Regions from separate parts of the Homo sapiens genome. Here region 2 is linked to region 1. Evidence: fine-mapped expression QTL. Tissue or cell type: cerebellum. Region 1 holds a variant in brackets; the other region holds the start of a gene. All regions are shown on one strand. Distances are from middle to middle.

Evidence for each region. PIP is the estimated chance that this variant, and not a neighbour inherited with it, causes the effect.
Region 2: it holds the start of ANO8, and the variant in region 1 is fine-mapped to the expression of ANO8 in cerebellum (GTEx, PIP above 0.99).

The regions. Positions count from the first base shown.
Region 1 is chr19:17,397,793-17,405,792 of GRCh38, forward strand. It overlaps BST2 (bone marrow stromal cell antigen 2), which reads right to left and starts at 7,838. Exons shown (of 5, transcript NM_004335.4): 1 at 7,499-7,838; 2 at 6,579-6,645; 3 at 6,337-6,397; 4 at 5,888-6,032; 5 at 5,147-5,534. The coding sequence starts at 7,783. The coding sequence ends at 5,903. BISPR (BST2 interferon stimulated positive regulator) reads left to right here and starts at 7,894. Exons shown (of 4, transcript NR_130766.1): 1 at 7,894-7,979. It also overlaps a transcript of MVB12A not described here. RefSeq lists a cis regulatory region at 1,184-1,748, a silencer at 5,325-5,493 and enhancers at 7,017-7,755, 7,740-7,799, 7,870-8,000. The variant A/G (reference allele first, on the strand shown) is at 3,861.
Region 2 is chr19:17,330,478-17,338,477 of GRCh38, forward strand. It overlaps ANO8 (anoctamin 8), which reads right to left and starts at 4,378. Exons shown (of 18, transcript NM_020959.3): 1 at 4,088-4,378; 2 at 3,213-3,323; 3 at 2,945-3,077; 4 at 2,624-2,762; 5 at 2,453-2,549; 6 at 818-934; 7 at 611-738; 8 at 351-512; 9 at 1-27. The coding sequence starts at 4,193. It overlaps GTPBP3 (GTP binding protein 3, mitochondrial), which reads left to right and starts at 7,076. Exons shown (of 9, transcript NM_032620.4): 1 at 7,076-7,187; 2 at 7,531-7,778; 3 at 7,888-7,974. The coding sequence starts at 7,135. RefSeq lists a silencer at 3,881-4,320 and enhancers at 6,045-6,716, 6,717-7,388, 7,389-8,000.

The DNA of each region.
Region 1 (8,000 bases):
GCACTCCAGCCTGGGTGACAAGAGCAAGACTCCATCTCAAACAAACAAACAAACAAACAATCCACACTTTTCCCTGAATGAGAGGCACTCATCCTCATTCTTTGGTGTCCCTGTGGCCCTGGATAGACTCTGCCCTCACACTTTGCCCTGGAAAAAACTCTTTTAACCAGGCTTGGCATGGTGGCTCACATCTGTAACCCAAGCACTTTGGGAGACTGAGGTGGGAGGATCACTTGAGCCCAGGAGTTTGAGATCAGCCTGGGCAAAATGGTGAGACCCCATCTCTACAAAATATAAAAAAAATTAGGGCCGGGCATGGTGGCTCATGCCTGTAATCCCAGAACTTTGGGAGGCCGAGGCAGGTGGATCACCTGAGGTCAGGAGTTTGTGACCAGCCTGGCCAACGGGTGAAACCCCATCTTAACTAAAAATACAAAAATTGGCCAGCGCAATGGCTCATGCCTGTAATCCCAGCACTTTGGGAGGCCAAGGAGGGTGGATCACGACATCAAGAGTTTGAGACCAGCCTGGCAAACATGGTGAAACCCCATCTCTACTAAAAATACAAAAATTAGCTGTGTGTGGTGGCGGGTATCTGTAGTCCCAGCTACTCGGGAGGCTGAGCTGAGATCGTGCCACTGCACACCAGCCTGGGCGACAAAGCGAGACTCTGTCTCAAAAAGAAAAAAAAAATTTAGCCAGGCATGGTGGTGGGTATCTGTAATCCCAGCTACTCGGGAGGCTGAGGCAAGAGAATTGCTTGAACCCAAGAAGGGGAGGTTGCAGTGAGCCGAGATCATGCCATTGCACTCTAACCTGGGTGACAAGAGTGAAACTCTGTCTAAAAAAAAAAAAAAAGAAAAAGAAATGAGCTGTGTCTGGACGTGTGGACGTGGCTCACTCACGCTTGTAATCCTGGCACTTTGGGAGGCCAAGGCAGGAGGATTACTTAAGGCCAAGCATTCAAGATCAACCTGGCCAACATAGTGAGATCCTGTCTTTATTATTTAAAAAAAAAAAAAATTTGCTGGGCATGGTGGTGCATACCTGTGGTCCCAGCTACTCAAGAGGCTGAGGTGTGAGGATTGCTGGAGCCCAGGGGATTGAGGCTGCAGTGATCCAAGGTCGCACCACTGCACTTAAGCCTGGGTGACAGAGAGAGGCCCTGTCTCAAAAAAAAAAAAAGAAAGAAATCAGAGCTCAGAGAGGTCGAGTCCCAGAGCAGGGACACTCAGCAGTGGCTGGTCACTGCCAAATTCCCACTGGGGACTGCAGAACCCCACAGCCGTCAGCTTCTCAACCCCTGGGTGGGTCACAGCCTTGGAGTCAGGTCTCTCAGGAAAAGGACAAAATAGGGAGGGAAGATGGGACATTTTAGGAAGTAGGGAAATTTACACCCAGGCCATTGTGTGGGGGGATTGGGAGTTGAATCCACAATATTGGGCTAATCTTATCAGCAAAATACAGCCCAGGCAGGATGGGGGTGGGGGTTGTGGGGGGAGAGTGGGGGAGGGAGTGTGAGTAGGGGTGGGGGTGGGTGGAGCAGCAGCATAGTCTGGGGACCTTTCCATGGCCCAAGTCGGGAGTGGTGAGTGGAGGAGGTCACGTGGGGAGCGTTTGTTTCCTGGGCAAAAGGAAATCCACAGAATGTGGAGGGTTAATTGCCCAACGAGCTTTGAAACCCTGAACAAGGCCAGGCATGGTGGCTCACGCCTGTAATCCCAGCACTTTGGGAGGCTGAGGCGGGCGGATCACGAGGTCAGGAGATCAAGACCATCCTGGCTAACACGGTGACACCCCGTCTCTACTAAAAATACAAAAAAAATTAGCCCAGCGTGGTGGTGGGCGCCTGTAGTCCCAGCTACTTGGGAGGCTGAGGCAGGAGAATCACTTGAATCCAGGAGGTGGAGGTTGCAATGAGCTGAGATCGCACCATTGCACTCCAGCCTGGGCAACAGAGCAAGACTCCATCTCAAAAAACAAACAAACCAACCACAAAAAAAACAAAAACCCCTGAAAAAGTCCAGTAATTACCCTAGGCCTCACCGGGGCTGTTGGTGAGGATGAAATAGCTTAGTAGTTGCAAAGCGGCTTTGGCTTTTTTGCAAGCCAGGGCCACAGAAGTGAAGGCCCACCCTGCTCCCGGGGACACTTAGCAACATATAGAGACTTTTTTTTTCTTTTGAGACAGAGTCTGGCTCTGTTGCCCAGGCTGGAGTTGCATCATCTTGGCTCACTGCAGCCTTGACATCCCAGGCTCAAGCGATCCTCCTGCCTCAGCCTCCCAAGTAGCTGCGACTACAGGCGTGTGCCACCATGCCCAGCTAATTATTAAATTTTTTGTAGAGATGGAGGTCTCCCTATGTTGCCCAGGCTGGTCTTGACCTCCTGGGCTGAAGCAATCCTCCCCCTTCGACCTCCCAAAGTGCTGGGATTACAGGCATGAGCCACCATGCCCAGCCTGGAAACATTTTTAATTGTCACAACTTGGGAGGGTGTTACTTGCATTTATGGGTGGGGGCCAGGGATGCCGTTTAATATCCTACAATGCAGCTGGGCGCCGTGTCTCATGTCTGTAATTCCAGCACTTTGGGAGGCCGAGGCGGGTGGATTTCTTCAGGTCAGGAGTTCAAGACCAGCCTGAACAACATGGTGAAACACCGTTTCTACTAAAAATACAAAAATTAGCCGGACATGATGGCGGGTGCCTGTAATCCCAGCTACTCGGGAGGCTGAGGCAGGATAATCACTTGAACCCGGGAGACGGAGTTTGCAGTGAGCTGAAATCGCACCACTGCACTCCAGCCTGGGAGACAGAGTGAGACTCCATCTCAAAAAAACAAACAAAAAAAACCCAAAACAAAAAACAAAATCCTACAATGCACAGGATGGTCCCCACCCAGAGAACCATCCAGCCCAAACCACCAATGCTGCTGAGGCTGAGACCCTGCCCTAGACCTTGGGAGTGAGGAACGGGTGCTCCAGGCAGCAGGCAGAGCTTGGGCAAAGGCCTTGAGGCAAAAAGGAACTTGGGATCAGTAAAGGTGGAGGTGGTGAGCAAGGGGAAGTGAGGGGGCAAGAGGGCCAGGGGGTCTGTGGCAGGGGAGGTATTTGGGGACCCTTCCCTGGGACAGCAGTAGGAACCATGGAAGTGGAGGCCTGGTTTTATTTATTTATTTATTTTTGAGACAGACTCTTGCTCTGTCGCCCAGGCTAGAGTGCAGTAGCGTGATCTCAGCTCACTGCAACCTCCACCTCCTGGGTTCAAGCGATTTTCCTGCCTCAGCCTCCTGTGTAGCTGGGACTATAGGCACGACCCACCACCCCCCGCTAATTTTTTTTATTTTGAGACAGAGTCTCGCTCTATTGCCCAGGCAGGAGTGCAGTGGCGGGATCTCGGCTCACTGCAACATCCGCCTCTCGGGTTCAAGCGATTCTCGTGCCTCAGCCTCCTGAGTAACTGGGACTACAGGTGCATGCCACCACGCCAGGCTAATTTTTTGTATTTTTAGTAGAGACAGGGTTTCACCGTGTTCGCCAGGATGGTCTGGATCTCTTGACCTTGTGATCCAACAACCTTGGCCTCCCAAAGTGCTGGGATTACAGGCATGAACCACCACGCCCAGCCATTTTTTTGTATTTTTAGTAGAGATGGGGTTCACCATGTTGGCCAGGTTGGTCTTGAACTGAGCTCAAGTGATCCACCTGCCTCGGCCTCCCAAAGTTCTGGGATTACAGGCGTGAGCCACTGTGCCTGGCCAGAGGGTTTTTTTTTTTTTTAAATCCCACTGACCGTCTGGGCTGGGGACTGTGGGACCTTAGGATAGTACAGAAATCTGGGACAAGGGACTCCTGGCTCC[A/G]TTACCACAAACAGGAGTTGGAGTTGCAGAGACAATGGCCGGGATTCCGGGAGAACTTGGAGGAAGTAAGATAACAGAGAAGGAAGGGACTATGGCATCTTTGAGGATCGAATAAGGTAGGTGAAGGGTCCGTCGGGATTGCAGCCCTCAATTGTGGAGAAGCAGAGAGACTCTCTGGGGGAGGGGTTCCCAGAGCTGGGTACTGCAGAATGAATAAGAGTTTGGGGAATCGGGCCAGGTGTGATGGCTCATGCCTGTAATCCCAGCACTTTAGGAGCCCAAGGTGGGTAGATCCCTTGAGGTCAGGAGTTTGAGGCCAGCCTGGCCAACATGATGAAACCCCTGTCTCCACTAAAAATACAAAAATTAGCCAGGTGTGGTGGTGTAGTACTGTAATCCCAGCTACTCGGGAGGCTGAGGCAGGAGAATCACTTGAACCTGGAAGGCAGAAGTTGCAGTGAGCCAAGATCGTGCCACTCTACTCCAGCCTGGGCGACAGAGCAAAACTCTGTCTCAAAAAAAAAAAAAAAAAAGAGCCGGGGGTGGTGGCTCATGCCTGTAATCCCAGCACTTTGGGAGGCCAAGGCAGGCAGATCACCTGGGGTCGAGAGTTCGAGACTAGCCTGACCAACATGGAGAAACCCCGTCTTTACTAAAAATACAAAATTAGCCGGGCATGGTGGCGCAAGCCTGTAGTCCCAGCTACTTGGGAGGCTGAGGCAGGAGAATCGCTTGAACCCGGGAGGCGGAGGTTGCGGTGAGCCGAGACTGCGCCATCGCACTCCAGCCTGGGAAACAAGAGCGAAACTCCGTCTCAAAAAAAAAAAAAAAAAAAAAAAAAAGAGAGAGAGAGAGAGAATCTGGGGGATGAAGCAGGGGGAAACATTCTGACAATGCATGGCCTGTGTGTGTGTACAGATCCCAGTTTAAATCCCAGCCCAGCATTTTCTGCAGGCGGGAAGGGAAGCAAGACAAGGTTACTCTCAGTTACAGCCTCAGTTTCCTCACTGGATCCCCAGGAATCAGGAGAGGCTCTAGGGAGGAGATGAGAATACAACACCTGGGAAACGGTGAGCCCTGATGAGGGTGCATAGTTCTTATGTTGATCCCAGCAGAGACAAGGGCTGGGAAGAACTGGGGTGGTGCCTCCCCGAACTCCGTGGGCTCCTGAAAACGTCCTGGAGCAGGGAAGGGAGGTGTCATCGTCAACGGGGTGTCCACTCTCACCTGCAGGGGCGGCCCCAACGCTTGGGTACTAAAACGATGATACTCCAGGAACTCGAGAGTCAGGTGTGCTCTCCCTCAAAGGAAGTGTTTATTTTTTGGAGCTCAAAGACCCCAGAAAAAAGCAACCCCCCCCGCAAAAAAAACCCATAACAACAGGCAGCACATGCCCCCCACACCGCACCCCATGCCCAATCTCAGGGTGGGAGACAAGAGGGGGGACTCATTGTCCGGAGGGAGGCTCTGGAGGGAGACAGCCCTGGGTCAACCCGACTGTGTCCCCACACCCAGGACTTCCCCATGGCCCCTCCAGACCTGCTCCAGAGGCCCTTCTCCGGCTACCCCGTGCTCTCCCCGCTAACCGTGTTGCCCCATGACCCGCTCAGAACTGATGAGATCAAGGGAATGTTCAAGCGAAAAGCCGAGCAGGACGGACCTTCCAAGATGTGCCTAAAGGACCAGAAGAGGGACTCAGGGCAGACTGGAGGCAGCAGACACTGGCCCCGCTCCAAGCCCGGCCCCAAGCCCCGCCCCCATCGCTAGACCCGCCCCACCCATCCATAAGCCCCTCCCCTCCATCGATAGACCCGCCCCCATTGATAGCCCCGCCCCATACAGCTATCAGCCCGTCCCCGATCCAGGGCATCCTTCTCACTGGATTCTCCCTCCTTCCCCAAGGCCCCTCACCTCTGCGCCCAGTCCCTTCCCCTGCAGCCTCTCTCTCTAGACTTCGGAGCCTCTGCTTCCCCGCCCCGCTTCCCCAGCTTTCTTCTCCCTCCCGGGGCCGCCCCCTCCTCACTGACCAGCTTCCTGGGATCTCACTGCAGCAGAGCGCTGAGGCCCAGCAGCACAATCAGCAGCTGGGGCGCCGCAGCGGAGCTGGAGTCCTGGGAGCTGGGGTAGTACTTCTTGTCCGCGATTCTCACGCTTAAGACCTGGTTTTCTCTTCTGCGGTACAGATGGCAAATCAGGCATCTGCTCGTCCTGGCTCCTGCCGCCCTCCCTGTAAGCCCACCGCCCCCGGGAGTTCCCCCCGCACCGCCCCAATCCAAGTCACCGGGGAGGGAATGGACAGCGGCCACCCATGGCTCTGTGACCCTAGGGGCTAAGTTATCCTTTTGTGGGACTCAAACTTTATCCCTTGGGGCAATGGGGATTTTGGGAGCAAAGGAGATCCTGGGTCTTGGGCTAGGGATGTGGGGGTGAGAGGAATGTGGCAGGTGGAGGGTAGCGGGGGAAGGCTATCTCTGACCTCAGTCGCTCCACCTCTGCAGACGCGTCCTGAAGCTTATGGTTTAATGTAGTGATCTCTCCTGGTAGGGTGGGAGGACAGAAACAGGGGGCGGGTCAGCATGTGGCCATGCTGGGGCCCTGCTCCACTCTGGGACAGAACCTCCCCCTTACCCCAACCTCCAGCCCTGGTCTCCCTGCCCCCACCCCCTCTTCCATACCTGACTCACCCCTCCCCGGCCCTCTCCCTTCTCCCTTTCTCACCCTCAAGCTCCTCCACTTTCTTTTGTCCTTGGGCCTTCTCTGCATCCAGGGAAGCCATTAGGGCCATCTAAGAAGAGTTAGAATCTGGGGTTTTGGCCTGGGGAGTTTGGCTGCTGCCCCTGGGACCTGGGCCTCCTCCCTAGGTCCTGGGGACAGAGGGGCTTAAATGCAAACCCCTTTCAGGTTTTCTTCCAACCCTCTCTGCACCATGGTCTCCAACCTTAAAGAACAGCCACAACCACACACTCTCCCAGGGCCACCCATAAGCATGTGGGTCCTCAAAATGGGAGTTTTGAGGCCACCCCACGTGGAAACTTGGAGGCTATCGATAACCAAAGTTTAGTGGACATTTCCAGATTGCCTGAGCAATGGCCCAAGAAAAGTTAGAGGGCCCTACCAAATCCAGAATGCAGTGGGATTTCCCCGCCCAAGTGACATGCCCAGCGAGAGTTTCAAGATCCCCCATATCAGGACCCAGGTGAATATTTCAGTTTCTTAGGGATGAAGTGAAAATTTCAAAAGCCCCCTTTTTCAGGGTCTGGTGAGGTCCCCCTTCAACCCTGAATAGGGATTTCTACTCCCCCAGGACTGGTGCCCACGAGGAGTTTCAAGGCCCCCGACACCAGTGCCCTGGAAAGAATTTATAAATTCACCTAAGTCCCAGGGGGATACTGAGGTCCCCGATTTGGGGGATCTGGAGAGTTTTAACACCCTGCCCCTACACCAGTGCCCTGGACTGGGTTAGGGGCCCACAAACCCTGGTAGGGGAACCTAGGTCCCTTGATGTGGGGGCCCAGGAGCAGTTTCAGGACCTCCCCTGCATCTCCCTGGAGACCCACCCTGGGTCAGATTTCTGGGGAGAGATTCTTGTCCCTCCCACCGCCTAGTACTAGGCCATCCAAAGGAGTTGAGGAGCTTACCACAGTGTGGTTGCAGGTGGCGGCCTGGGCCTCCACATCCTGAAAGCCCTTCTGGGCCTCGGTCAGCTCTTGTTGCAGGAGATGGGTGACATTGCGACACTCCATCACTGCCCGAAGGCCGTCCCGGCAGGCCTCGCTGTTGGCCTTGATGGTGAAGATAATCAAGGGCACCCCCAGAATCACGATGATCAGGAGCACCAGAATTCCTATCCCCAGCAGAAGCTTACAGCGCTTATCCCCGTCTTCCATGGGCACTCTGCAATAGTCATACGAAGTAGATGCCATCCAGATCTCCCCTTTAGAGTCTGGCCTGGAGTTAGGGGAGGGTGCTGGAATCTTCTACGGGCCACCCCTTTATTAGCATAGGAAACGTCCTGACCAATAGCAAGTTCCAGGAAGTGCTCTGACCAGCAGCTCTTGCATGAGGCACCTACAGGCAGAGGATTAATTAGGTTTTCAGTTTCAGTTTCCCAGAAAGGAGGTGGGCTTTTTTTTCACCCTG
Region 2 (8,000 bases), 67 kb before region 1:
CGTGATGGGGCTGATACGTCGCACGCCCTGATGGTGGGCAAAGACCGGGCCCAGCATGAGCTCAGAGGGGCCACCTCTGCCTTCTGCACCCCTCCCTATCCTCAGAACTCAATTTCCCTCCATCATGCGGAGGTGACCCTCTCAGGTCACCCACCTAGGGCACTGTTCCCAGTCCCTCAAATCCAACTTCCACCTCTCCCCCTGGGGAGCACACAGAGCCCGCCTCGGTTTGGCATACCCTCTTTGATGAAACAATCCTGTTTCACACCTCTCTGCCTTTGCTCCTGCAGTGCCCCCCACCATTTACCTTTGTCCTGTCTCCATGACCCTGGACTCAGCCCCCAACTGACCCTGAACTGGGGGCGTGGCTCCTCCACGGCTTCCCCAGGTGAGTCCAGCGTCCCCCACTTATATGCCAGCTCAGCCCCTCTCCGCTTCCATTCCTCTAGGAACAGCGTCGACCAGATCACGTTGAAGAGGGCAAAGACCACGCAGGAAACATCCCGGCTTGTCTGTGAGTGGCAGAGAAGAGTTGAGTCATTGTTTGTGCCAGTCCAGAAAGGAGGGCGCCTCTGGATCCCCCAGACCTTGCAGGGTCCCTGCCCAGTACCTGATCAGCCTCTGTGAATGTGTACAGGACAGACCCGAAGACAGCTGGGTATACCATAGCCGACGTGTAGAAGCCCAGCCAGGCGAAGTACATGGCAATTTTCACACCAAAGTAATCACAGATGTCATCTGCCAGGGGACAAGTGGGTCTCAGTCACCCCCTGCCTGTCTGCTGGGACTCCCTCCCACCCCCCAGCCCAGGCAGCACCTAGAGGCTGGTTTTCACACACGGCCTGCACCCATGACTTCATGAGGCGGTTCAGAATACGCTGCTCGTGGACAGGGAACACCTGCTGGATGATCCCACGTGCTGCCAGCTCCGGGACTGTGGAGGGAGGAGCACAGGTGATCCCCGCCCCTCCACCTGTGCCTAGCCTGGCTAGCCCCTCTTTGTCTGAAACCCAAGTCACAGCTTTTTGCCTGCTCTTAAACCTCTAGAGCTCTTTCCAGGGGAGAAGTTCTAGACGGATAGAAGATCTGATTCTCCTTCAGAAATTGTAGGTGCAGGGGCAGGCGGGGAGAATGTAAAGGAACTGGGAGAGTGGGGTTCTGGTGAGGAACCATGTTTTTTTTTTTTTTTGAGACAGTCTCACTCTGTCGCCCAGGCTGGAGTGCAGTGGCGTGATCTCCGCTCACCGCAACCTTCAAGCGATTATCGTGCCTCAGCCTCCGGAGTAGCTGGGATTATAGGCGCCCACCACCACGCCCAGCTAATTTTTGTATTTTAGTAGAGACGGGGTTTCGCCATGTTGGCCAGGCTGGTCTCAAACTCCTGACCTCAAGTGATCCACCTGCCTCGGCCTCTCAAAGTGCTGAGATTACAGGTGTGAGCCACCGCGCCCGGCTTTTTTTTTTTTTTTTTTTTTTTAGACGGGGTCTAGCTGTGTCACCAGGCTGGAGTGCAGTAGTGCGATCTCAGCTCACTGCAACCTCTGCCTCCCGGGTTCAAGCGATTCTCCTGCCTCAGCCTCCCGAGTAGCTGGGACTACAGGCGCGCGCCAACCACACTTGGCTAATTTTTGTATTTTTAGTAGAGATGGGGGTTTCACCATGTTGGCCAGGATGGTCTCGATCTCCTGACCTCGTGATACGCCCGCCTCAGCCTCCCAAAGTGCTGAGATTACAGGCGTCAGCCACCGCGCCCGGCCTTATTTTTTACTTTATTTATTTATTTGTTTGAGACAGGGTCTCGCTCTGTCACCCAGGCTGGACAGAATGCAGTGGCGCTACCATGGCTCACTGCAACCTCGAACTCCTGGGCTCAAGTGATGCTACCGCCTGGACCTCCCAAAGTACTGGGAGCCACTGCGCCTGTTCCCCTGCTTTAAATAAAGCTCAGTTTGTGGACCCGAACGTCTGAGGAATGGTAAAAACTTGCTGTCGGAAGGTGAACTTGGGTGCCTAGTTTCCTGGAGGGGAATCCAACGCCCAGAGCCGCACCACTCTGTAAGTGGAGTGCTGTCCATGGTTCCTGCCTCCACTTTATCCCAAACCCAGAAAAGGGCCTCTCCTGGACCCACCTCCCAGAAATAAGCCCCACCCTTTGGCCAAAGCCTCGCCCCCTCAGCTCATTGGTTCCCAACCCTTTGCCAACCCCTAACTGGTTGGACATAAGCCCTGACCTCCTGTCCTGATAAGCTGTCCTCTCAGAGCTCCACCCAACTCAGGAGATAAGCTCCACCCTTTTGCTAAGGCCACACCCCTTTAGCTCATTGGTTTCCTAACTCTTTGCCAACCCCTGACTGGTTGGATCTGGGCCCCGCCCTCCTGCTCCTATAAGCTGTCTTTGAAGAGCTCCACCCAACTCTCTGCCTGTGATTGGTGTTGACCCCGCCCTGCTCACTGATTGGCTGGTCCTCCAGGAAGCGCACGTTGTGGAGTGCTTCTCCCTGCTTGGCACGCAAATTCTGCAGCCAGAAGCGGATGATGCTCTGGCGTTCCTGCGAGGAAGAGGGCGTGAGCTCAGGGAACTCATAGGCACAGGATGCATGCGGGGGCCCAGAGCCGGCCTCACCTGGGAGGTGAAGAAGCGTAGCTCGCTCTCCACATTCTCATAGATAAAGTCCTCCTCGCAGGAGAAGCCGCGGGTGCCCCCGCCAAACTCGGCCTTCACTGCTTTGCGCAGACCCAGCTCGTCGGCCCCTCGGAGTAGGCTGTGAAGAAGGCGGAGGAGGTGGGCTCACAGGGAGGCCCCGGCCCACCATCCTGGAGCTGAGGATGGTGCACCTGGCAGCCTTTGGGACAAACGCAGGGCGGCTGGATAGCATGGTTGGCACTTGGTAGAGCGGGGAGTCGGGTGGCAGGCTCAGCGAGAGGCCAGGGACAGGGGACTCGCCTCTCATACGTGGCGGTGACAAAGAAGGCGTAGGCACGCGTGTGGCGGTGGTGGCGGACTTGCACGATGAGCTCGGGAATGCCCACGCGGATGTGGTTCAGCAGCCATAGCAGCGTGTGGTCATCGGTCGTGTCTGCCAAGGGGCACAGGGACCGATGGCTCCTGCCACGAGGGGGCCCAAGGCCTCCTACGTATTCCCGTTCTGGGAAGCCGAGCTCAGGAGAGCCGCATCTGGGCACTGGGCGGGCGGGCGGGCGGGCTTGGGTACCTGGGAAGGTCATCAGCACGTCGCAGTTCTCTGTAGGCACCGTCTTCATCCACGCCTTGTGGGACACCAGGTAGCGACCAGCCTGCAGGAGCCGCTTTCCGAAAAGCTTATCTAGGGGGCGGCGTAGCAGGCCCGGGTCAGGCCACTCTGGGATCCGGACCCGGCCTCCAGTCTTGGCTCCTCCTGCCCCCGCCAGGGCTCCTCACCACTCCACCTGGCATTCAAGGCCCCGGGAGCTCTGGGCTTGGCTTATTTTCCTCCCTCCACGTCCTTGTACCAGCCAGGCCTTCCTCCAGAAATGCCCTTCCCCCCAGATCCTCCCTTACAAATCTTACTCATTCTTGAGGCCCAGCTCCGCCTCCAAAACCACAATCGATGGGGCGCTCACTAGCAGCCCTGAGCGCTTCACCACATTATGACAGCGCCGTCCTTGCAGCAGCCCCAGGGACTAGGTGCGGTTCTTACCCCCATTTCACAGGTGAGGAAACTGAGGCCCAGAGCGTTTAAGTCACGCGCCCAAGGTCACACAGTCAAGCTGGGATTTGAACCCAGGACCGTATGATTCTGTATTCTTCGCGGAGAGGCTCTCTCAAGCACATCCCTGGCCCGCCGCGATCCCGCAGCCCGGGGGTGGCAGGGCGCAGCCCAAGCCTGGGGCTCTCGGAGGGGCGTGTCCGCGTCTCCGCGCCGGGACCCCAGCCCGAAGCACCGTCCCAGCCCCGCCCGCCGGGCCGCAGCCGCAGTGCCGGGAGGAGCCGGCCCCTCGTCCAGACACCACGCCAGGTTACGTTTGACCCTGATCCTCCTCCCCGTGTAGTTGACGCGGGCTCCCCAGGCACCTGCAACCCTGTCTGGTCCAGCCGCCGCACACATACCCAGAACTCCGGACGCCGGGGCTGCAGGCTCGCCCTCCGGCGGGGGCCTCTTGCCACGCTCGCCCTCCAGGGACGTGCCCCCGGCGCCGGAGGCGGCCTCGGCCATGGCGAGGACAGGTCAGGTCAGGGGCTACGGACGGCCCGGGCGACGGGGAGCCGCGGGCTCATGGGGCCGGTGCAGCCGCGGAGCGCGCGGGAGGAGGAGACAAAGGCCGCGCCCGCCCGCGCCGGCCTCGGTCCTCGCTCGCCCGAGCGCTGCTTCTCGTCCCCGCCCGAGCCGAACCTCGATTCTCCTTCCCGGCCCGATGCACGTCACTCTAGGGTTCTCAGCTGAGTTCGCCCGCCTAGTTCTTTGGTTCGCGTCTCCGCCCGTGTTGTTTTCTGGGTTTCCTTCTCGCCCGCCTACCTCGCTCCCTGCTGCTGGTCCCCGCCCGCACTGATGGTGCATTCTCCAACTTGTCCCCACCCATGCTTTCTTCTGGTCCCCGCCTCGGAGCCTCAGTTTCCCCATCTGCAAACTCCGGACCCTGGAGACGCTGTTTGGAATGTGAGATGGGCGTAAGTTGACTAAGGGAGGACGTGGGAGGGGCGGGCCGGTTGGGGAAGATTCCTGGTGACAATAACTTCAACCACCCCAGTAGGGCTGTGATACATAATTACAGCAAGCCCTGCTTAGGAACTTTGCACGCACCATTTGGCTGCCTAGAACACTCCTCATGCACTCTTCGTCCGGTTAACACCGACTCCCTTCAGGATGTAACCTCGGAGAGGATCCCATAGAGTTGTCAAGTTTAGCAAATAAAAATACAGTCCGTCTAGTTAAATGTAAATTTCAGATAAAAGAATAAATGTTAGCTGGGCGGGGCGCACCTGTAATCCCAGCTACTTGGGAGGCTGAGGCAGGAGAATCGCTTGTGCTCAGGAGGTCAAGGCTGCAGTGAGCTGAGATCACACCCACTGCACTGCATCCTGGGCGACAGAACGAGACCCTGTCTCAAATACATATATATACATACATACATAAATGTTTCTATGTCCTATGTCTACATGGGACATACTAGTACTAAAAAATTATTCATTGTTTATTTGAAATTCACATTTAGCTGGGCGACCTGGGTTTTACCTGGCATTTGGCCAACCCCTGACTATTCTGAGTAGCTCAGTCTGTTAGACTGAAAGCCCAGCGAGGGTAGGAACGAGGGGCCAGGTCTGGTTCTCAATGCGAGCACACAGTAGGCGCTTGCTGTACGCTTGTTACAGATGTAACAACTAGCTTGTTACAGATGTAATAACTAGCTTGTTACAGATGTAACAACTAGAGAATGGCAGATGAAATATAAATATGTCATCATTTGTTCCTATTTTACAACTTAAAATATTAAAGCCTCGGCCGGGCGCAGTGGCTCACGCCTGTAATCCCAGCATTTTGGGAGGCCAAGGCGGGTAGATCACCTGAGGCAAGGAGTTCGAGACCAGCCTGACCAACATGGCCAAACCCTGTCTCTATTAAAAATACAAAAAATTAGCCAGGCATGGTGGCGCACGCCTGTAGTCCCAGCTACTTGGGAGTCTGAGGCAGGAGAATCGCTTGAACCTGGGAGGCGGAGGTTGCAGTGAGTCTAGATCGCGCCACTGAACTCCAGCCTGGGCGACAGAGCGAGACCCCGTCTCAAAAAAAAAAAAAAAAAAAAAAAAAAGCTTGGGCAACGTAGTGAGATCCCCGTCTCCACCAAAAAAACGAAAACAAAACAAACAAACAAAAACAACAAACAAAAAGAAACACCGAAAAGTTAGACTGGCATGGTGGCTCGCGCCTGTGGTTCCAGCTACTCAGGAGGCTGAGGCGGGCGGATCCCTTGAGCCCAAAAGTTGGAGGTTGCAAGAGCCGTGATCGCGCCACTGCACTCCAGCCTGGGCGACAGAGTGAGACCCTGTCTCAAAAATAAAATAAAATAAAATAATAAAGTAAATAAAAATATTGAGCAGGGCGAGGTAAGGGGGTATTAGAACTCTATTCTGTCAGACAGATTTTTCTTAACACGCAAGTGCGCCGCCCGCCCGCTCTGATCCAGAACCAGAGAATCCGCCATGCGAAGGCGCTCCCGGAGACCCCGCCCAGCCAGTGCCTGGAATTCCACCATCAGCGCTTTATTCCGAGTTTCAGTGCTGTCCTGGGTTAACCTGAAAGCAATCTCCGAGGCTCCCCTTTCTGGCTTTCGGGGAGCCAGAGACTGACCGGACACTTGGCTCTGCAGGTGCAGACCTGGACCAGAGAGACAGAGAGCCAAGGAAGTCCACAGTGGAGAGAGGGCTGTGCTGGGGGTTCCAGGAAGACTTCCTGGAGGAGGGGATCTTGGAGCTAGGCCTTGAAGACGAGTTTGTCAAATGAGGAAGGGCATCCGAAGCCGAGGGAACGGCAGAAGGGAACGCTGGGGAGGGGAGAGAATCTGGAGAGTTCCGGAAAAAGCAAGTAGGACTCTTTCCAGAAGTTCGGGCAAGATTTTCCCTGGATCAGGGCGTGGGTTCTCCAGTACTCGTCCCTCCCGGTCACCGAGATGCTCTGAGTTTCCGGTCTGAACCTGAACGTAAAGAGGTGTAGTCCCTCCTTTCTTGAACGGGAAAACTGAACGCACATAGGTCCTTGCCACGCCTAAGGCTGCGGAGTGAGCAGATGGAAAATGCGGGACTCAAAACCTCCCCTCGCTGTAATTTGCACTGCCCTGTGCCAAACTCTGTCCTTTCTTCCATTCCTTATTCCTATTGTCAGCCTCGCTGCGCTAGGACCCTAAAAATTTGGTCTCATGTTGCCCGGGGAACAACATTTCGCTACACCTACCTCCATACCGCCTCCCGCTCCCGCTCTCCCTTGCACCAGCCAATGGAAGCGAGTATCTTCAGACGGTGGGCAGGACGTATCCTAAGATACCCAATGGTGGTCGAGAATAGTTGAGCACTTTACTAGTCAAGCCGCGGAGTGGGCGGGGCCCCCTGCCCAGACTTGAAGCCACACAGGCAGGTCGGGCAGGCGGGTCGCAGGTTGTAAATCCATGTGGCGGGGGCTTTGGACCCTGGCGGCCCAAGCGGCACGTGGGCCTCGCAGGTGGGGCTACAGGGGAAGGGGTGCGACAGCTTGGGGTGCTGCTTGGACCCCAGACCCACTCCCTGGGTTTTAGGGGCCCAATTCCCTGCGGCAGAGCAATCATTCGCGTTCTTCCGTGCCTCAATCGTTCATGACCCTTGCGGCAGAGCCCATATCTGGGTCTCCTTCTGGCCTCACAGTCCCTAATCCGGTCACCCTTCGGCCTTCAGAACATCCAATTTGTGCATCCCCCAGCCGCAGAACCCCCCCACCTGGAGCATCTCGCGATCATCGAGCCCTCGGTCTACTTGACACTGAGGCTGAGCCTCCCAGGTGCGCTGATTCGCCTCCCCTCCGGTTCCAGATTGTGCACGCGCCGGAGCAGCGGCGCACCAGCCCCCGGCTCCGGCGCCACCATCTTCGCGCTAAGCTCTGGCCAAGGCCGCTGCGGCATCGCAGTGATCCGGACCAGCGGCCCCGCCAGCGGCCACGCCCTCCGAATTCTCACAGCACCCCGAGACCTGCCCCTTGCTCGCCACGCCAGCCTGCGCCTGCTCAGCGATCCCCGCTCCGGGGAGCCTCTGGACCGCGCACTGGTGCTCTGGTTCCCAGGTGAGGGTCCCCAGGTTCCGAGCCTCCTGTAGGTCCCATGACTCAGTTTCCCCCTTCCAAGGGTTTGCACTGGCTGTGCTGTCCTCCTGTCACCTGTCTGTCACATTAGGTCCCCAGAGTTTCACCGGTGAGGACTGCGTGGAGTTCCACGTGCATGGAGGCCCGGCAGTGGTGAGCGGCGTCCTGCAGGCCTTGGGTGAGTTGCAGCGTTGGGTGAGATGC